Linked DNA regions of Homo sapiens. Each later gene encodes a partner of the first gene's protein in a complex. Each region holds a gene or a part of one and is shown in the gene's direction. Other genes may lie near its edges.

Evidence for each region.
Region 2: the proteins of ARPC4 (region 1) and ACTR2 are in contact, whole or in part, in a cryo-EM structure (PDB 6YW6), measured with the Homo sapiens proteins. Residues at the interface, in NP_005709.1 of Homo sapiens: Val29, Val30, Glu31, Arg32, His33, Lys35, Pro36, Glu39, Val40, Ala98, Glu99, Asn100, Phe102, Ile103, Leu104, Arg105, Arg106, Lys107, Leu117, Thr119; in NP_005713.1 of Homo sapiens: Tyr222, Val223, Tyr225, Gln229, Glu230, Lys232, Leu233, Ala234, Leu235, Glu236, Thr237, Thr238, Val239, Lys253, Thr308, Met309, Tyr310, Pro311, Gly312, Pro314, Ser315, Asp346 (codon at 2,761).
Region 3: ARPC4 (region 1) and ARPC3 share a complex: the UniProt entries of both Homo sapiens proteins name them as parts of the arp2/3 complex.

Annotation. Positions count from the first base shown.
Region 1 is NC_000003.12:9,788,296-9,796,085, forward strand, and holds the start of ARPC4 (actin-related protein 2/3 complex subunit 4), read left to right. Parts: upstream 1-4,786; 5' UTR 4,787-4,826; coding exon 4,827-4,829; coding exon of another isoform or gene 4,830-4,886; intron 4,887-7,790. Other genes in the region: TADA3 (transcriptional adapter 3), read right to left, coding at 1,214-1,319, 1,418-1,668, 2,965-3,171; ARPC4-TTLL3 fusion protein, read left to right, coding at 4,827-4,829. UniProt on the Homo sapiens protein: Actin-binding component of the Arp2/3 complex, a multiprotein complex that mediates actin polymerization upon stimulation by nucleation-promoting factor (NPF).
Region 2 is NC_000002.12:65,265,825-65,271,772, forward strand, and holds the end of ACTR2 (actin-related protein 2), read left to right. Parts: intron 1-2,739; coding exon 2,740-2,910; 3' UTR 2,911-5,429; downstream 5,430-5,948. UniProt on the Homo sapiens protein: ATP-binding component of the Arp2/3 complex, a multiprotein complex that mediates actin polymerization upon stimulation by nucleation-promoting factor (NPF).
Region 3 is NC_000012.12:110,447,319-110,454,364, reverse strand, and holds the start of ARPC3 (actin-related protein 2/3 complex subunit 3), read left to right. Parts: upstream 1-4,027; 5' UTR 4,028-4,104; coding exon 4,105-4,110; intron 4,111-7,046. Other genes in the region: GPN3 (GPN-loop GTPase 3), read left to right, coding at 494-622, 1,269-1,331. UniProt on the Homo sapiens protein: Component of the Arp2/3 complex, a multiprotein complex that mediates actin polymerization upon stimulation by nucleation-promoting factor (NPF).

The DNA of each region.
Region 1 (7,790 bases):
AGTGCAGTGGCACAATCTCAGCTCACTGCAAGCTCCGCCTCCCGGGTTCACGCCATTCTCCTGCCTTAGCCTCCCGAGCAGCTGGGACTACAGGCGCCCGCCACCACGCCCGGCTAATTTTTTCTATTTTTAGTAGAGACGGGGTTTCACCGTGTTAGCCAGGATGGTCTCAATCTCCTGACCTTGTGATCTGCCCGCCTCGGCCTCCCAAAGGGCTGGGATTACAGGCTTGAGCCACCGCACCCGGCTTTTTTTTTTTTAATGGATGGAATCTCCTTCTGTCACCCAGGCTGGAATACAGTGGCACGATCTTGGCTCATTGCAACCGATGCCTCCCCAGTTCAGGTGATTTTCCTGGCTCAGCCTCCCGAGTAGCCAGGATTACAGGTGCATGCCACCGTGCCAGGCTAATTTTTGTATTTTTAGTAGAGACGGCGTTTCACCATGTTGGTCAGGCTGGTCTTGAACTCCTGACCTCAGATGATCTGCCTGCCACAGCCTCCCAAAGTGTTGGGATTACAGGCGTGAGGTGACTTTTATATCTTTTTTTTTTTTTTGGAGACGGAGTCTTGCTCTGTTGCCCAGGCTGGAGTGCAGTGGCGTGATCTCGGCTCACTGCAACTTCCACCTCCCGGGTCCAAGAGATCCTCCTGACTCAGCCTCCCGAGTAGCTGGGACTACAGGCGCACACCGCCATGCCTGGCTAATTTTTTGTATTTTGGTAGAGATGGGGTTTCACCATGTTGCCCAGGCTGGTCTCAAATTCCTGAGCTCAAGCAATCTGCCCGCCCCGGCCTCCCAAAGTGCTAGGATTGCAGGCATAAGCCACTGCTCCCAGCCCAAGTTTTATATCTTAAAGAAAGAAGAAAGGTTCCTCCAGAGGCCTCGAAACAGGAAGAGAGTTAAGAGGCTGTTTGGATAGAAGTTGATGAAGGCTTGGACCAAAGCAGAGGGGATGGGGATAAAGGAACATGGGCAGACTTCACTTAAGTAGATGCTTGAGGGCGTGTTGACATTTGGCTGGGGTAGAGGGGAGGCAGTGCACGGAGAAAGCTGAGTTTGGGCCTAGGTGTCTGGAGGCACTGATGGAGCAGACAGCAGACTGGGCAGGGTTGGGGAAGGAAGATGATGCATGGCTTTGGTAGCTTTACTTCTCAGGCACCTCTGAACTCTCTTGTTCCGCATCATGTCTATCAAGGCCCAGAGTTTCTACCTTGTAATGCTCAGCCTCATCTTCTGGGGGCTTCAGTAACTCCTCAAGTGTGCGGACCTCCTCGCTGGTGATGTCAGCACAGTAGGGCTCCACTGAAGCCCAGAACCTGCAGGGAGAAGCAGATCCTGAGTGGGCGCCCCTGCCCCACCAGTGCCTCCACCACCAGAACCTTGAGGCCCCCTTCTATGTTCTCTAGCCCAGAACCTGTTGGGGGCATCATTTTTGGGGATCCGTGGCACGTCGATAGGGTCATCAGTGAATTCATATTCCTGGATCTTGGGCTGAAGGTTTTTGGATTTGGGCCGTCCTGGGCCAGGGCCCGGCCCATGTCCTGCCTTCCCTTCCAGTTTCTGCTTCTTGGGCTTCCCATGTTTGGGGGGAGCTCCAAGTTCATGGTCTCGACCCAGCTTCAGGAATCGTCTGTCACCTTTCTTATCCTGCCAGTCGGTGAGGATCTGAAATTTACAGAAAGTGTCACTGAGGGGGAGAAGGGAAAACACAGAATATCTCTTTCCTCTAGTGAATAAATTAGGATCTAGAATCTACAGAGGCTCCTGGGTCTTTCCCCATCCTCTTTTTACCTAGTAAACTCTTACTCATCCTTCAAAATTCAGCTCATTTTCTGTGCCTGGCCTCCTAGAACTTTATTCATATACTTCTCATAATCTCATTCACTTGTTCATCTATACTGATTCACTTCTGTATCACCCATGCCAGTCACATACTGTTTAACAGAAGAGTCCTCTCAGCAAACCTTCACTTCGATGTCACCACTACTGAGATGCCTTCTCTCAATCAGTTACCCAGGTTCTTAGATGCTAAAATACAACTTGAGTCATAGCCTTCCTCAAGGAGGGTCCATGGATTCCCAGGGACAAGTTAATTCCATTCATCCTTTTAGGTCCAGTTGGCACCTCCTTCCTCCACAAGTCTCTGGCACTTCACAGCTCCAACGTGCACCCAATCGTGTTGTTTGGTCACACTGGAATGACCATCACACCTTGTCTCTTCAACTAGACCATAAGCTACTGAGGACCAGAAAGCCCACCTTAACCATCTCTATTTTGCAGAATACAGCATAGCGCCTGGCACACAAGGCTCAAGGCATCTTTATGCAGTGAATAAAGTCATCAGAGTAGCAAATAAATAACATCTGAAGTACTTACTTAGTGTCTGGCATTGGGCTGAGTTTTTGCAAAAAATTCTCTTTTAATCCTCACAAAAGCACTAAGGTAGGTCCTATTATTCACCCCACTTTGCAGATAGGGAAACTGACACTCAGAGATATGAGGCAACTTTCTCAAAGTCACATAGCTAGGAAACAGCAATGCTAGCAAGCGCTTATGCCAGGATTCAAATCCAGGTTTCCCCATTCCAGTTCCCTAGGACTGCTAACCACAACATCACATCACCTGGTATGTACTTGACTTTCTCACTTTCCTAGTTGCCAAGCTCCCTGACAGCCATAACTGTCCTAATTACCTTTCTCTAATGACTAGCATAGGACCCAGAACACAATGGGGGATGAGTGGGGTGCCAATAAAAGCTTACTGAATTAGAAATCTTGCAATTTAAGAGGATCATGCATATTCTTGTGTATTTTTTGTGTCATGCAAACCCAGTTTGCGTCTCTCTCCCTCTCCCCACAAACCCCTGTACCCCAAGTCTCAGCATATGGGGCTAACTCAATGACCCATCCCATAACTTGTTGCAGTCCATCTCTGGTGCTGGCCCCTCTCTGGGGTTATCACCTGGGTTTCGGCCTCAAGCACACGCAGGCGCCGGCTGGCAGAAGACAGCAGGGTCTCCAGCTCCAGCTGCAGGGTGTCCAGCTCCTCGATGCCGATGCCATCATCCTCAGAGCGTGCCAGCACTGCCGTGTAGCGGGGACAGACCTTCAGGTGATCCACAGACTTGAAGTCGTGGAACTGCAAGGGGCAGTCTTTCAACTCACTCATGGCCCAGGATATGGGGATCCTGTGGAGCTGGAGAGGACAGGGCCATTGATGGGAGACAAAGTGGTCTGAGAAAAGCCCAAGGGCTTCTTACCTCCAGGGACAGCCTCAAGGAAGCCCAGCTTCAGTCCCTTACTGACAAAATTGATGGCACAGTTCCTACTCACAGGGCACTTAACTGGGTACCAAGCTAGGTGCAGAGCACTTTATCAGTTTATCTCACTGAATTTCTCACTCAGCACCATGAACAAGGACCATTGTGATCTCGTTTTTACAGAGAAAGAAACTGAGACTCTGTAAGGGTGGGTATGTGCCTATGCTTCCAAGATGCAATTTGAACCCCGCTAGTCTTGAGTCTGCACCCTGATCACCATGCTATACTGCTATGCCTTGCCTCGCCTTTCTGATGCTCTTTCCTTCCCTTCTATTTCTCTTGGGTTCTGCTAAGACTTTGAGTTCCAAGCACCCCATTCTTACCATGTTCTCTGGGACTCTTGGCCTCTTTTCTTACCCTATTCCACCTTTCTCCCTTCTCTAGTCACTAACAGTGGTTTAGAACGTGGGCTGGTAAGCCAGACAGACCTGGGTTCAAGCCCAGGCTTTACCATTCTCTACTTATATGCCCCTGAACATGTTATTTGACCTTTTTCAGTCTCAGTTTTTCCATCTGTAAAATGGGGACAAAAGAAGTCTCGGTCTGTTTCCCCATTAAAAGTCTGAATCTGAAAAATGGGGATAACAATAGTACCTACCTCCCTGGGATGTTCTGAGGATTAAGAGATGATGCCCGTCAAGAGCCCAGTTCAGTGTCTGGCACAGAAGTGGGACTGTTTAATGGCTGGCCCCGCCCGGGGGTCGCCCAAATGTCCCGCCTTCAGAGTCCTCGTTCTCTAGGGACACCCTAGTGCGACCCCCGCCCCCTCTACCTCCTCGCTGCGGCCTCCTACGGCCCCAGGGGCCGCGGGAGGGGGCGGGGAGTTCCGGTCGATGTGAGCAACCGCCCCGGAACTGGCTATGGGCGGGCCCCTTGCAGTTGACGCGGGGGCGGGGAGTCAGCGAGGGCGAGCCTACTGGAGTTTGCCGGGGGTGGGAAGAAGGTGGGCCTCGAGCAAAGCCGCTAGAGGTGGGGTGCGGGTGGTCGGCCTCAGGCGAGCCCCGGGGCACAGCCCGGGGCGGGAGGCGGAGCTTGGCGGCCGAGATCTCCGCGCTGCAGTTAGCCCCGCCGAGCGCCAGGAGCTGCGGGTAGGAGGGGCGAGAGAAAGGATGGGGGTACAGAACCGGAAGAAACGAAGGGCTCGTCCGCTTCGGCTTGTCCTAATTTGGTGCCCAATCTGAAGCTGGGCTGTACCATTGCATACCTGGGGGAGGCTGTGGCAAAGGTGACAAGAAGGCCGAAGGCACAAAGGGAAGCTGCACCCATTCCTGGAGGAGCTTAAATAGTGACTCGAGTGCAAGAATTTAAAAATACCGAGACAGCCCTAGGTGGAAAACTTCCGGAAGGCCCAAGCGTTCGTAAGGGCTCTCTACCCCGCTCGGAGCATAGATGGTACCGTCCGGAAGTCCGGGCGGAGACCGTAGCTGCGCTTCTCGCGAAAGGGCAGGCATCGCGGGGCTGGCCACTTCCGTACTTCCGCTTTCCGGCCCAGCCAGCGCCCGCGATGGTGAGAGAGCCGGGCCCCCGGCCAGGGACCCCCGGCTGTTCGGCCTCAGGGCAGTGGGTCGGTGGGAGATGTGGCTTTGCCGCAGGGGCGCGGGGCCGAGGGATGTCCGGGGGTTGTGGGGACACGATGAGGGTGGGAAAAAGAGACGGGGCGGGGGCCCGAGGTGAGGAAGGGGCGAGTGGGGGTACTCCCTGGTATGAAGTGGGCCTTGTGGCTTCACGGTCAGCCTTCGAAGCAGGTAGGGGCTTTTCCTGAGCCCTGTAGGAACCCGGAAGTGGGGTCTCCTAGGCTCTTTGGAGCATTTCGAGGGTACGTAGTCGGCCTCTTAGCCTCTGAGGCATGAAGCAAGTCCACCTGCCTATCCACAGTGGAACTTCACGACATACGCCCTTTGTCCTCTTCTGCCTTCCTGACCCTACAGTTGCTTAAGGCAGGCGGCCACACTTCCTTATCCCATTCTTGGTACCTCCAGCCCTGCTTCCACCCCATTGGAGGATCTCTCGTGTTGCTTCCATTCAGGCCCTTCCTGGTCAGAACTGAACTGTGTCAGCCTTAGTGTATGTTAGCTGTGATACTGCTCATCCCTCCCTTCCTGGAAGTCCTCCCTTTTTCATACATGTGGGCCTTTTTCATACATGTGGGCCTTTTTCATACGTGTGGGCATTCCTGGGAGTTGTGACTTTGGATGACCATCTCCCTCTTCGTCACACCTTCCCTGGTGATACCGATCTAGTCTCCTGGCTTCGATAACTTTCTTCATTCTGATGACTCCTAATCTGGCTTCTCAGCTCTCTTTCAAGGTTTGCCTGGATATCTTGAAGAGACCTTGAAATTAGACCTCTAGTTCAAAACTCATATTCTATTCTAAATTTGTTCTTCCTCCTGGGTTCCCTATCCTGGCAAACTTTTGTGACCTCATGTCTCTGCTAAAAATCTGTATTTTTTTTTTCTAGTGGGGCACATGCCTCTTGATTTTTAAAAGTTCAAGTTTATTGAGGTATTACATGAGACTACATCTGTTTTATTCATGAAAGGACAGGCGTCACGGAGCCAGTCACCCTTTTTAGGTTTACTTTCTATAACTGTTGACAAAGGCCAGGCGTGGTGGCTCACGCTTGTAATCCCAGCACTTTGGGAGGCAGAGGCGGGCGGATCACGACGTCAGGAGATCGAGACCATCCTGGCTAACACGGTGAAACCTCTTCTCTACTAAAAATGCAAAAAATTAGCCGGGCGTGGTGGTGGGCACCTGTAGTCCCAGCTACTCAGGAGGCTGAGGCAGGAGAATGGCGTGAACCCAGAAAGCAGAGCTTGCAGTGAGTCGAGATCGTGCCACTGCACACCAGACTGGGCAACAGAGTAAGACTCCGTCTCAAAAAAAAAAGCGTTGCAAAAACTTGCTGGGTATGGTGGCATGCGCCTGTAGTACCATCCGCTCAGGACACTGAGGCAGGAGGATCACTTGAGCCCAGAAGTTCGAGGCCGTAGTACACTGTGATCACTCCTGTGAATAGCCACTGCACTTCAGCCTGGACAATATAGCAAGATCCCGTGTCTTAAAAAAAAAAAGTCAAGTTGTGTAACCACTACTGCAACCAAAATACAGAACATTTCCGTCACCCCAAAAAGTTCCCTCAAGCCCTTTTGTAATCAGTCCTCTCCTTCCCACCCCAGACAACTACTGATTTTTCCCCCCTGTAGTTTTGCCTTTTTCAGATTGTCATGTAAATGGAATTCTTTAGTATGCAGGCTTTTAAGTGTGGCTTCTTACCATAATACATTTGAGAGTCAACCATGTTGTGTGTATCAATAGTTACTCTTTTTTTATTACCAAGTAGTAGTTAATTGAATGGCTGGACCACAGTTCGTTGGAAGTGGTTTTTCTTTTTCTTTTTTTTTAAGACACAGTCTCGCTCTGTCACCCAGGCTGGAGCACAGTGGCGTGATCTCGGCTCACTGCAACCTCAGTCTCCTGGGTTCAAGCAATTCTACTGCCTCAGCCTCTCAAGTAGCTGAGATTACAGGCACCCGCCACAGCTAATTTTTTGTATTTTTAGTAGAGACGGGGTTTTGCCATGTTGGCCAGGCTGGTCTTGAACTCCTGACCTGAGGTGGTCCACCCACCTCGGCCTCCCAAAGTGCCGGGATTACAGGCGTGAGCCCCTGGGAAGTTTTTTTTCAGTTCCATTATCCACTCCATCTAATGTCAGTCCAACGCTTGTGATACTCTTTGCTTGTGATACAGTCTGCTGTATGTCTCACTTCCCTCTCCAAATCATTCTCCACAGAGCCATCATGCAGCTGCAGTCATGAACTTCCTCCTCAGAAAGCCCCAGTAGTTCCTTACCCCCTTAAGAGAAAAGCTAAACTTGGTAGCCTGGCATTCAAGATTCCCCATGATCTTACCTCAGCCTACCGCTGCAGCCTCATTTAGTGAATCTAAAATGCTTCTCATATACAGAAACATTGTACTCATTACTACTCTGGAACTCTTGCTGTCCTTTTGTGTTACTCTAATCTTAATTATTTCTTTCGCTTATTTATTCTACAGGAAATGAGTGAGACACTGTATATGTTAGGTACTGAGCTAGGTTGGAGGCTATATAGCTGTGAATAAAATAGATATGGTCTGTTGACCATGAGGTTTACAGCCTAGTAAAGGAGAAATCACTTACAAAGGCATGAAGGAGGGCAGGTGCAGTGGTTCATGTCTGTAATCCCAGCACTTTAGGAGGCCGAGATGGGCGGGTCACTTGAGGTCAGGAGTTTGAGACCAGCCTGGCCAACATGGCGAAACCCCATCTCTACTAAAAATACAAAAATTAACCAGGCACGGTGGTGCACACTTGTCATCTCAGCTATTCGCATGGCTGAGGCAGGTGAATCACTTGAACCCGGGAGGTGGAGGTTGCAGTGAGCCAAGATTGCACCACTGCGCTCCAGCCTGGACAACAGAGTAAG
Region 2 (5,948 bases), on another chromosome or scaffold:
TCTAATCCTGAGTTAATCTCTGAGCTTTGTCTCACTGACTTTGATCAACTGTTTTAGATAATGAGATTATGTATTACAGAGTACTGTATGTTACATCTTTCATATATGACTCATTGTTGAAATTAAATTGAGTATGGGCTCACATACATTAAACAGATTAACAGACTGGAAAGGAGCCATACTGTCTAAGTACTTCACTTATTTTTCTGATTTTATTGAGTTTTACATATAATTTATAATTAATCTCAGGTGATCATTTATTCAGCAAACATTTCTTGAACTCCTGGGTGCCAGACATAGGTCTAGGTGCCGGGGACAAACAAAACAATGAAAACAGAATCCCTGCTTTTAGTCTAAATAATGTATTAGTGGTAATAAGTGATATGAAGAAAAGTAAGGTGAAGAGCTGGAAAATGTTAGTGGTTGGGGAGGTAGTGTGCTCCTTCATAAACTGTGATCAGGAAAGGCCTTTTGGATGAAGTGACTTTTGATCAGAGACCTAAGTTGAGCGTGAGAGGAGTGAGCCTTGTGACTGTCTGGGGGAAGAATCTTCCAGGCAGGAAAAATGCAAAAGCCCCAGGTTGGTGGGAGTGTGCCAGTGTGGCTGGAGCAGAGTGAGCAAGGGAGGGGGGCAGGTGGGATATGAGGTCAGAAGGGTAGCAGGAGGGCAGGTCTTGTTCAGCCATGGTAAAGGGTTTGGCTTGACTCCTGGTGAAATGGAAAGTCTTGGGTGTGGGGGCGGTTTAAGCAGAGAAATGATAGGATCTGATGTATATTTTTAAAGGATCATTAAGTCTGGTGTGGTGAATAGACTCTTGGGGGAAGAGGGAACAAAGGTGGGCATAGAGAGACCAGTTAGGAGGCACTGAGAGGAGGGGAGGGATGGTAGAGTTTTAGAATAGAGGAGGAGGTTGAAATGGTTGTTTTGGAGAATGGAAGCGAGAATAGAGAAATGTAATAGGATTGCCATGCAGCAGGAAGGGCTCAGTTGAGGTTAGTGATACATTATAGCAAGATGTTTTGTTTCTTTCCTATCTTGTTCAGCTGCTTGACAGCAGGTGCAATTTGTCTGTAGGAATCTGTAGATGAGTTCAGCAAGGAGGGAGTGGTAGATGGAATGATCTGATAGAATGAGTTTCAGTGGGGCTATGGAGTTTTAGGGATGAGCGAGATAGAAGCAGCAATGAAGAGCAATAACTCATATTACCAAACCTCCAGGGTTAAGGTAGTGTGTGAGAGAGAAACAGTAAAGCAGTTGAGGTATTTACAGAAGCAGTGTCTTCAGGGGCTAGCTAAGTTTCCCTTAGAGTAGAGGTGGTCATCTATAGCCCTTATGCCAAAACTGGTTTGTTTGTTTTTTTTAAGTTTTATTGGAACACAGCCAAGCCCATTTGTTTACATAATGTTACCTGTTGTCACATATTGTCTGTGGGCACCTTCTAGCTACATGTGGGGTTGGGTACTTGTCACGCCTACAAAGCCTCAAGTATCTGGCCCTTCACAAAAAAAGTTTGCTGACCCCTATGTAAGAGCAAGAAAGTAAAAGGAACAATTAAAACAGTCTCAGAATTGGTAAATAAACTGATGTTTTTCTTTATCTTGGATTGTTAGAACCCTTACAGTTCATTTATGTGACATAAATATACAAATGATTTAGAATGACATAGTTACATTGGGTCTTTTTTGCAGATCGTGATACTGTAAATGAAAAACTTGCTATGTCATTTTAAGGTTTCTCTTTCAGGTGTTGACCAACCATAAAGATAAGGATGTGTCCTTCCTAGACACTTAATAGTAGCTACAGAGTATAAAACTTTTCCCAATTGCCTTTAATTTTGGTTACTGTGTTCATTTTCTCATAACATCCTGATGATTTGTTTTGACCATATTTGGCCTTGTTTATTTTAAGAACATTTCATTTGATTTTGAGACAATAGAAAGTAAGCTTTGCTTAAAAGAAAAGAACTTCAGTTTTACTCTATTGCCCTGGACTAGAATCATAACAGTATGAGACCTTGAAGAAGTCATGCAAGTCCTCTTTTTTTTTTTTTTTTTTTTTTTTTTTTGAGATTGAGTCTCTGGGCTCACTGCAAGCTCCACCTCCCAGGTTTACGTCATTCTCCTGCCTCAGCCTCCCGAGTAGCTGGGACTACAGGCACCCACTACCATGCCCGGCTAATTTTTTTGTATTTTTAGTAGAGACGGGGTTTCACTGTGTTAGCCAGGATGGTCTCGATCTCCTGACCTCGTGATCCGCCCGCCTTGGCCTCCCAAAGTGCTGGGATTACACTTGAGCCACCACACCCAGCCATGCAAGTCCTCTTATCCAGACTTTGCTTGACAGCAAAGTGACTTTCCCAAGTGGTCATCTGCCATTGGATGGGAAATTTGCTCTAATTATGTCTTGGATGTTTGGTCTCTCAGTAGGGTGTTAAGTCATGTAATTTACTGATCAAATTAGGACACTCAAGAATGGAAAGGGTGGTATTAATAATGATGGGACACCACGTGTAAATCAGGACTGTTCCAAGCATGCTGGGATGGATGTGTGGTCTCCTAAACATGAGCTTTGGGCAAATTACTAAATGTTTCTGTACCTCAGGTACCAAATATTACGTTCTACTTATATTACAGGACTGTTGCAAGTTTGAGGGAGAGCATATATTTAAAAAGCCATTTTCATAAAGCAGAAAGCACTGTGCACATGTACCATTTCATTATCCTTTCTTTCTCCTTTAGAAATTTAAGATCCGCATTGAAGACCCACCCCGCAGAAAGCACATGGTATTCCTGGGTGGTGCAGTTCTAGCGGATATCATGAAAGACAAAGACAACTTTTGGATGACCCGACAAGAGTACCAAGAAAAGGGTGTCCGTGTGCTAGAGAAACTTGGTGTGACTGTTCGATAAACTCCAAAGCTTGTTCCCGTCATACCCGTAATGCTTTCTTTTTTCCTTTATTGCCAATCTTTGAACTCATTCAACTCCAGGACATGGAAGAGGCCTCTCTCTGCCCTTTGACTGGAAAGGTCAAGTTTTATTCTGGTGTCTTGGGGAAGCTTTGTTAAATTTTTGTTAATGTGGGTAAATCTGAGTTTAATTCAACTGCTTCCCTACATAGACTAGAGGGCTAAGGATTCTGTCTGCTGCTTTGTTTCTTCTAAGTAGGCATTTAGATCATTCCTATAGGCTTCCTATTTTCACTTTACTGCTCTAATGCTGCTAGTCGTAGTCTTTAGCACACTAGGTGGTATGCCTTTATTAGCATAAAACAAAAAAAACTTTAACAGGAGCTTTTACATATTACTGGGATGGGGGGTGGTTCGGGATGGGTGGGCAGCTGCTGAACCCTTTAGGGCATTTCCTCTGTAATGTGGCGCTTTCAACTGTACTGCTGCAGCTTTAAGTACCTTAAAGCTTCTCCTGTGAACTTCTTAGGGAAATGTTAGGTTCAGAACTAAAGTGTTTTGGGTGGGTTTTGTTGCGGGGGGGAGGGTAACAATGGGTGGTCTTCTGATTTTTATTTTTGAGGTTTTGTCAACTGGAGTACGTAGAGGAACTTTATTTACAGTACTTTGATTTGGCAGGTTTTCTTCTACTTGTGCTCTGCCTGGAGCTGTTTCCATATGATATAAAAAGCAAGTGTAGTATTCCATTACTATGTGGCTTAGGGATTTATTTGTTTTTTAAAATCAACCATGTTAGCTGGGATTAGACTCCCTACAGTCCTTCAATGGAAAAGTAACATTTAAAAATCCTTTGGGTAATTCGAATTACAGATTTAAAAGAGCTTAAGATCTGGTGTTTTGTTAATGCTTCTGTTTATTCCAGAAGCATTAAGGTAACCCATTGCCAAGTATCATTCTTGCAAATTATTCTTTTATATAACTGACCAGTGCTTAATAAAACAAGCAGGTACTTACAAATAATTACTGGCAGTAGGTTATAATTGGTGGTTTAAAAATAACATTGGAATACAGGACTTGTTGCCAATTGGGTAATTTTCATTAGTTGTTTTGTTTGTTTTGATTTGAAACCTGGAAATACAGTAAAATTTGACTGTTTAAAATGTTGGCCAAAAAAATCAAGATTTAATTTTTTTATTTGTACTGAAAAACTAATCATAACTGTTAATTCTCAGCCATCTTTGAAGCTTGAAAGAAGAGTCTTTGGTATTTTGTAAACGTTAGCAGACTTTCCTGCCAGTGTCAGAAAATCCTATTTATGAATCCTGTCGGTATTCCTTGGTATCTGAAAAAAATACCAAATAGTACCATACATGAGTTATTTCTAAGTTTGAAAAATAAAAAGAAATTGCATCACACTAATTACAAAATACAAGTTCTGGAAAAAATATTTTTCTTCATTTTAAAACTTTTTTTTAACTAATAATAGCTTTGAAAGAAGAGGCTTAATTTGGGGGTGGTAACTAAAATCAAAAGAAATGATTGACTTGAGGGTCTCTGTTTGGTAAGAATACATCATTAGCTTAAATAAGCAGCAGAAGGTTAGTTTTAATTATGTAGCTTCTGTTAATATTAAGTGTTTTTTGTCTGTTTTACCTCAATTTGAACAGATAAGTTTGCCTGCATGCTGGACATGCCTCAGAACCCTGAATAGCCCGTACTAGATCTTGGGAACATGGATCTTAGAGTCACTTTGGAATAAGTTCTTATATAAATACCCCCAGCCTTTTGAGAACGGGGCTTGTTAAAGGACGCGTATGTAGGGCCCGTACCTACTGGCAGTTGGGTTCAGGGAAATGGGATTGACTTGGCCTTCAGGCTCCTTTGGTCATAATTTTAAAATATGGGAGTAGAAAACAACAAAGAATGGAATGGACTCTTAAAACAATGAAAGAGCATTTATCGTTTGTCCCTTGAATGTAGAATTTGTTTTTGATTTCATAATTCTGCTGGTAAATGTGACAGTTAAAATGGTGCATTATGTATATATATTATAATTTAGAAATACCATTTTATAATTTTACTATTCCAGGGTGACATAATGCATTTAAATTTGGGATTTGGGTGGAGTATTATGTTTAACTGGAGTTGTCAAGTATGAGTCCCTCAGGAAAAAAAAAAAATTCTGTTTTAAAAAGCAATCTGATTCTTAGCTCTTGAAACTATTGCTACTTAAATTTCCAATAATTAAAAATTTAAAATTTTTAAATTAGAATTGCCAATACTTCTACATTTGAGAAGGGTTTTTTTAGAAATACATTTAGTAAAGTCCCCAAGACATTAGTCTTACATTTAAACTTTTTTCTTTAAAACATGGTTTTGGTGGTTAACTTTTACACAGTTCTGAGTACTGTTAATATCTGGAAAGTATCTTGAGATATCAGTGGAAAGCTAAACAGTCTAAATTAACATGAAATACTTCATTTTGATTGAGAAAATAAAATCAGATTTTTTCAAAGTCAATTTGAATTTTGTCATTTCTTTCTAATAGTTATTTCTTGTTTCATTTTCTTGTTAATGCAAGATGAATTGACAGTTTATGCTAGTTGTTAGGTCAAGTTCATGTCAGTGTTCTATTATTGACAAAACAACTCATTATTTCTGGTATGATTTTATAAATACATAAGAAAATAGAATAGCGATTTATAGCTACATCAGAGGCTGTTTTCTTCCAACAAACTGTTTTGTCTCCCAAAAGATTTAAGGTGGCTTTCACAGAATTAGAAATGCTAAAGAGACCTGTATGTAACATGCCCCCTTTCAAGGACATATTAGCTCATCTGCAGACTTTTAGGCATATTATTTTTAACAAATAAAAGAAGGATGAAAATACATTTAACTGACCTTTTCTTGTTTTATACTAGCCTTGAGGATGAGGGCTGGAGAGTAGAGAGAGTATTTTTGCCTTTCCTTCTTCGTGGACTTGTATGTGCAAACCTCATTGCCCGCTTCAGGGCCGGAGTCCCAGACAGCGAACGTAAG
Region 3 (7,046 bases), on another chromosome or scaffold:
GGTTTTTTTCCTAAACACCTGGTCAAGTGTTTGCCTGTGTCCAGTCATTTGCCATATAAAAAGCACAGTTCAACCCTATTTTCTGCAAAGTGGAGGGAAAAGGGCTGTGGGCTGGTCAGTCAGCAGTTTAATTTAGAAGTAGTTATTGGTAGTGGCCAATAAATAAACTAACATCTTATTATTTCAAGCCATTTGGAGAGTTCAGGACTGTTTGTTCTCTTGTGAAATTTCCAGTGGTTGTTGAATTCAGATAAATAGCCGTGAAACAGTGTCTAGTTAAAGTAATAAGCTAACAAGTGTTCTAGCAGATCAGAAGTCAGAAAAATCAATGATTTACTCTCTGTGTCTAGCTATCCCTTCTCCTCCTCTTCCTGTAAACACATCAGTGTTTTTATTCAGAAGTACAAATGGTTATAAAACTCAAATATAAGTTGAAAATTATGTATTTTGCACAACTTCAGAATGAACTTTTCTTGAAATCCACAACTTGTAGATTGATGACTACAGCATGGTTCGATTTTTACCTTACGATCAGTCAGATGAAGAAAGCATGAACATTGTATTGCAGCATATTGATTTTGCCATTCAATATGGAGAAGACCTAGAATTTAAAGAACCAAAGGTAATTTCTGGTTTGGGGTGTTTGTTAGCTTTTGATAAAAATATTTGCCAGCACTCACTGGACTCTTGCATAATCCAGGCGACTCCTTAAATTAGTTTTTTGTCTTATTGATGGCAGTTAACTGGGCTTTTCTGGGTGATCTCTGAAATTAACACTGTACTCCACAAGCAGTATCACTTTTACTCTACTTTTGTTGAGGCAGTATGATGAAGCCTGTGTGTACTTAGAGCTTGGGTGTATGTGTAAAGAGGAGGTGAAATTGGGCTGCCCTCACGTATGTCATTGAGAAGACTAATGATAGTATCAGCTAAGCATTTTTTTATTTTTTTATTTTTTATTTTCCTGACCACTAGACTACCAGCGAAGTAAAGCACTATCACAGGAAATTAGCCAAGAATCGTCTTGAATGTAAATTCAAATGAGAAATGCTTCTGGGATAGAAGCACATTAATTTACTACATAACTGGAAAAAAATCTGTCAATCATGCCTTTTCTTACTATTAACAGTTACCTATAAGCAGCACCTGGAGCTGGTGCTGGGTAATTAGTTCCACATAGGGTATTACCTGAAAAATATATAAACACATACTAGTTCTGACTGAGGGGAAATGAATATATTTTCTATTTTGTGTTTCCATTGTGTCAGGAACGTGAAGATGAGTCTTCCTCTATGTTTGACGAATATTTTCAAGAATGCCAGGATGAATGAAGAGTTTACTAAAAGTAACCATCTAAAGAGCTTGTGGCCAAACCAGCAGAACATTCTTCTCTTCAAAGGATGCAATAGTAGAAAGCTACTTATTTTAATGAAAAAAAGTAAAACTTCGTTCTTTATCAGCCTCATGCCTGAATCAAATTTTTAATTATTCTGAAACTGCTGCTGTTTAAAGTGGAATCTTTTAGTATTATAACAGCATCACTTTAGATTTTGTAAGTCAAAATTGAAATGAATGCACATAGATTTATATATAAATTAGCACCTGAGCTAAGGTTAAGGCTGGTCTAAACTTATTTTCACTTTTTGTATTATTTTTGAGATGCAGGAATTACTGTAACAAAATATGTATGTCCGAAGGGAAAAAGCTGCAAGGATATATATAAGACCACTGCTTATCTGTATCTTCCCATTTTCCTATATTGAAAATGTATATTATTTATATAACTTAAAAAGTAAAAATAACTATGTTTTGAGATATGTATGTGTATATATAAAAGAAACAAAGGTTTTTAATGATTCTTGGACCTAGATAACAAGTACACTGCAGTGTCTAATTTGATTCATTTTAATTAAGCAAAATGTGGCCAAGCGTGGTGGCTCACACCTACAATGCCAGCACTTTAGGAGGCCGAGGCAGGTGGATCACCTGAGGTCAGGAGTTCAAGACCAACCTGGCCAACATGGTGAAAGCCTGTCTTTACTAAAAATACAAAAAATTAGCTGGGCGTGGTGGCGCGTGCCTGTAATCGCAGCTACTTGAGAGGCTGAGGTGGGAGAATCCCTTGAATCCAGAAGGTGGAGGTTGCAGTGAGCCAGGATCGCACCATTGCACTCCAGCCTGGGCAACAGAGTGAGACTCCATCTCAAAAAAAAAAAAAATGTGAGGACCTGTAAGTATCGGTGGTAGCTTATGCCTGGGGGCCAGGCTAGAGGGAAGGGTCGGGTGTCTACCCCATGGTCCACTCAGGGAGGAGCATGATGAGTGGGCAACATGGGGATGTGCTGGGCTGCCTGGGGACCTTCCTGTGGCCCTTAGAGGATAGATAGTGTGGAAACAGCCTGATCTCCCAGGGTTGCTAATTCTTAGAAACTTATTGTCACATGGGAGGGGAAGAAAGAAGAGGCAGATTTTCAGTTGCCCTCTTCCTTGGTCCTCCCTGGTTTAGCTTCTAGAGAGTATGGTATGTGCCTGTGGAGAAAAAGTGAAGGACCCGATTCCAGTGCCTTCCCCACTGGACACTGGGGTTTCAAAGATGAATCTGACAATTCCAGTCCTCGAGGATTTCACTGTCTCATAGGCAGGGCTGACAGAAATTCAGTAAATTTACACAAATTTACTGAAGTTCCGTGGATGCCAGACACTGGGGATAGAACAGGGATGCACAGTGCAGGCAGGGCCTTGCTCACGTGGGGCTGCCATGCTGGGCCTGTGAGACTGACCATGAGGAAGGAAACCTCAGAGAGAGGATGGAAAGAAAAGCAGAAAAGAAATGGAGAGTGATTATGGGGCTACTTTGGGCTCTTTGTCAAAAAAGACCTTGCCTAAAAGGTGCTATTTGCCCAGTCAGCTGAATGTGAAATCAGATGTGGGAACATGGGGTCCTATTTCAGGCTGGGAACTGGCAGAAGAAATGGCTCTCAGGCAGCAATGAACTTGACTTTTAACATAAGAAGTTTTCTAGTAATAAATAAGTTAAAACTCTGGGCTTTCAGTATGCTCCAAGCATGTAAGTTCTAAGCATTTTACATGTAATTCATTTCATCCTCACAAAACTATGAGGTAAATACTGTTACTGCCATTTTCAGGTGAGGAACTGAAGCACAGGCCAGTTAACTTGCTCAAAATTACAGAGCTAGTATGTATTGGAGCTGCGATTCAAACCTGGAGTCCAGTGCCCTTCAGTTTCTCCATTTTTAGATGCAGTGCATTGGGTTCATTCATTCACTCAAATATTGATGTTTCCTACATACCGTCACTGTTACGGGCGCAGGTGACAAAACGGACGAAGTGCTGCCTTTTTGGCATTCACAAGCACTAAGAGTAAACTAAATACAAGAATCGTAAGAACTAAGGGAAAAAGCGGGAGAGAAGGATAAGGCATGGGGCTGGAGTTGGGTGAACTGAAAATAGAATGAACGGAGAATGCTTCACAGGAAAGGTGATTTTTTTTTTTTTTTTTTTTTTTTTTTTTTGAGAGAGTCACACTGTCATCCCGGCTGGAGTGCAGCGGCGCGATCTTGGCTCACTGCAACCTCTGCCTCCTGGGTTCAAGCGATTCTCCGGCCTCAGCCTCCCGAGTAGCTGGGATGCTACCACGACCAGCTAATTTTTGTATTTTTAGTAGAGACGGGGTTTCACCATCCAGGCTGGTCTCGAACTCCTGACCTCAGGTGATCCACCCGCCTCGACCTCCCAAAGTGCTGGGATTACAGGCGTGAGCCACTATGCCCGGCCCTGAAAAGGTGACATTTGAAAAAAATACAAAAGAGGTGATTGATCTCAGATTCTGGAACCTCAAGACCCATCTCCATTCTGGGCGCTGCCTCACGCTGCACCACTCAAGGCCCCTGCCTAGTGCTCTGGCGCCTCCTTCAGATCCGCGCGGCCGCTGCAACCAGAAGCGGAACTGCAAGGCCGGAAGCTCCACGTCCGCACCCGCCCCTTCCGTTTCGCTTCCGCCTACCTCGCCCAGGCTGCCAGACCGGAAGCGCTCCGCTGTACCTGGATCCTGCTCCTCTGGGTTGAAACCCGGGCGCCGCCAAGATGCCGGTGAGGGTTCGATCCACGGTGTGGGGAGACAGCGGGGATTGCGAAGAGCAGAGAGAAACCGTGTGTGTGCCGAGAGAAGCGGGCGGCGGAAGGCAGAGAGGAAGCTGGGGCCCGAGAAGGAGGGAGGCGAGGGGAGGGGACCGGTTGCTGAAGGATTGGGGCGGCCCGGGGGTGCCAGTCGTGGGAGGCGGGGGCGCGGCAGGAGTGGGCCAAGGGTCCAGGGTGTGTGAGGAGGCCCTTTTCTCTCTCCGTCTACTCCTTCCGACTCCGGCAGGGTTCCCAAAGCCTCACTAGAGAGCGAAGCCAAGGGCTGCGCTTTTTATTTTTCATATTTCAAGTCCAGGGGTCTAGCTTCTCCTTTTTCTGTCAGGCCCACTTCCTCCTCCGCCCCGGGGTCAGGCTCCCTCTGCTGTTTGTCATTTGTCAGAACCCACTTCCCGGCAGCGGCGGCCATCCCGGAGCCAGCTGGGTTTAGGGCCCTCACAGACTCGTTCGGCGCCTGACTTCCAAAGATTTCCTTTTTCGTGTGCCATCAGAGTGGGAGTAAAAAATTATGACGGCCTGGTTGTACTTAATTTCTGACAGCCAGTTTGTGGGGTAGATTTATCACCGTCATGGTCTCCATTTTGCAGATTCGGGAAAAGGTGGTTCAGTTATTATGTGATTGTTCACACTTTTTTTGTTGTTTGTTTTTTGAGAGAGTCTCGTTCTGTCGCCCAGGCTGGAGTGCAGTGAGGCGATCTCGGCTCACTACAACTTCCACCACCCTGGTTCAAGCAATTCTCGTGCCTCAGCCTCCCGGGTAGCTGAGATTACAGGCGCGCGCCACCACGCCCAGCTAATTTTTTGCATTTTAGTAGAGACGGGGTTTCACCATGTTGGCCAGGCTGGTCTGGAACTCCAGACCTCAGGTGATCCGCCCCCTCGGTCTCCCAAAGTGCTGGGATTATAAGCGTGAGCCATCGCGCCCAGCCTGCTCACACATTATTTTTAACAAACGTTAACGAGCACCTGCTGCCTGCCAGGCTGTATTTACAGCAGCAAATAAGTTCAACAAATCCCTAATCTTAAAGAATGTACATTCAAATCGGGAGTCGAGACAATAAAAGTGTAAACATAATAAAGGAGATACATACGGTAGTGTCAGGTAGTGACAAATGCTATAAAGAAGCTAGATGGGTGGTCAGGCGCAGTGGCTCACGCCTGTAATCCCAGCACTTTGGGAGGCCTAGGTGGGCGGATCACGAGGTCAGGAGTTCAAGACCAGCCTGGCCAACATGGTGAAACCCCATCTCTACTAAAAATACAAAAATTAGCCAGGCGTGGTGGTGCGTGCCTGTAATCCCAGCTACTTGGGAGGCTGAGGCAGGAGAATCGCTTGAACCCAGGAGGCGGAGGTTGCAGTGAGCCGAGACCGTGCCACTGCACTCGTCTAGTGACAGAGTGAGACTCTGTACCACCACCCCCCCCCCCCCCGGAAAAAAAGAAGCTAGATGGGTAACAAGACAGTTGGTGAGAGGGAAGGCGGAGGCTGCTTTAGATAAAGCATACCTGTGATGAAAAGGAGCAAGCCATAGTTGCAAATACATTTTTTTTTTTTTTGAGACAGGGTGTGACCCTGTCTCTCAGGCTGCAGTTCAGTGACACAAACTCGGTTCAGGTGATCCTCCCACCTCAGCCTCCTGAGCAGCTGGGACTACAGGTGTACGCCACCATGCCCAGCTAAGTTTTTGTGTTTTTAGTAGAGACAGAGTCTCACCATGTTGTCCAGGCTGATCTCAAACTTCTGGGCTCAAGCAGTCCTCCTGCCTCACCCTCCCTAAGTGTTGGGATTACAGACATGAGCCACCTCGCTCAGCCTCACAAATGCATATTTTATGAATCCCATAATTACCATTTGACTCCTGAGCTCTGGGGTACACACTTTATAAATTATCCCATCTAATCCTCATAACGACCCTATGAAGTAGGTACCATGATTCCTGTTTTACAGAAGAGGAAACGGAGCCTCAGAGAAGTTAATTTGGACAAGGTTGCCTAGTAATGGTAAAACCAGGTTTTAAGCCAGGACTCTAGGCTGGGTGCAGTGGCTTATGCCTGTAATCCCAACACTTTAGGAGGCCAAGATGGGAGGATCACTTGAGCCCAGGAGTTTGAGACCAACCTGGGCAACATAATGAGACCCTGCCTCTACAAAAATAAAAATAAATTAGCTGGATGTGGTAGTGCATGTCCTCCCAGCCTCTCAAGAGGCTGAGGTGGGAGGATCACCTGGAGCCAGGAGTTTGAGGCTGCAGTGAGCTGTGATCCTGCCACTGTACTCCAGCCTAGGAAACTCTGTCTCCAAAAAAAAAAAAAAAAAAAAAAAGGACTCTAAATCCCTGTACTGGTTCCAATCGCACATAGAGCACCCTGGATTCACTCTGTTGGGTTTTGTTTGTTTGTTTTTTTGGGGGGAGGGGTTTGTTTGTTTGTTTGTTTTTGAGACAGAGTCTTGCTGTGTCGCCAGGCTGGAGTGCAGTGGTGCCATCTCGGCTCACTGCAACCTCTGCCTCCTGGGTTCAAGCGATTCTCATGCCTCAGCCTCCCAAGTAGCTGGGAATACAGGCATGCACTACCACACCCAGCTAATTTTGATATTTTTAGTAGAGATGGGGTTTCACCATGTTGGTCAGGGTGGTCTCGATCTTCTGGCCTTGTGATCTGTCCGCCTCAGCCTCCCAAAGTGTTTGGATTACAGGCGTGAGCCACCCCGCCCATCCCATCCTGTGATTATTTTCTGTCTGTCTTCTCTACTCTTCAAGGACCAGAATCGTACTACTTTGTATATTACTATATCACAGTGTCTTGCACATAGAAGGTGCTTAGCAATCATTTGATGAATGAATGAATATATGAATGGGACCCATGTTGACTTATAAAAAGCCAGACATCTT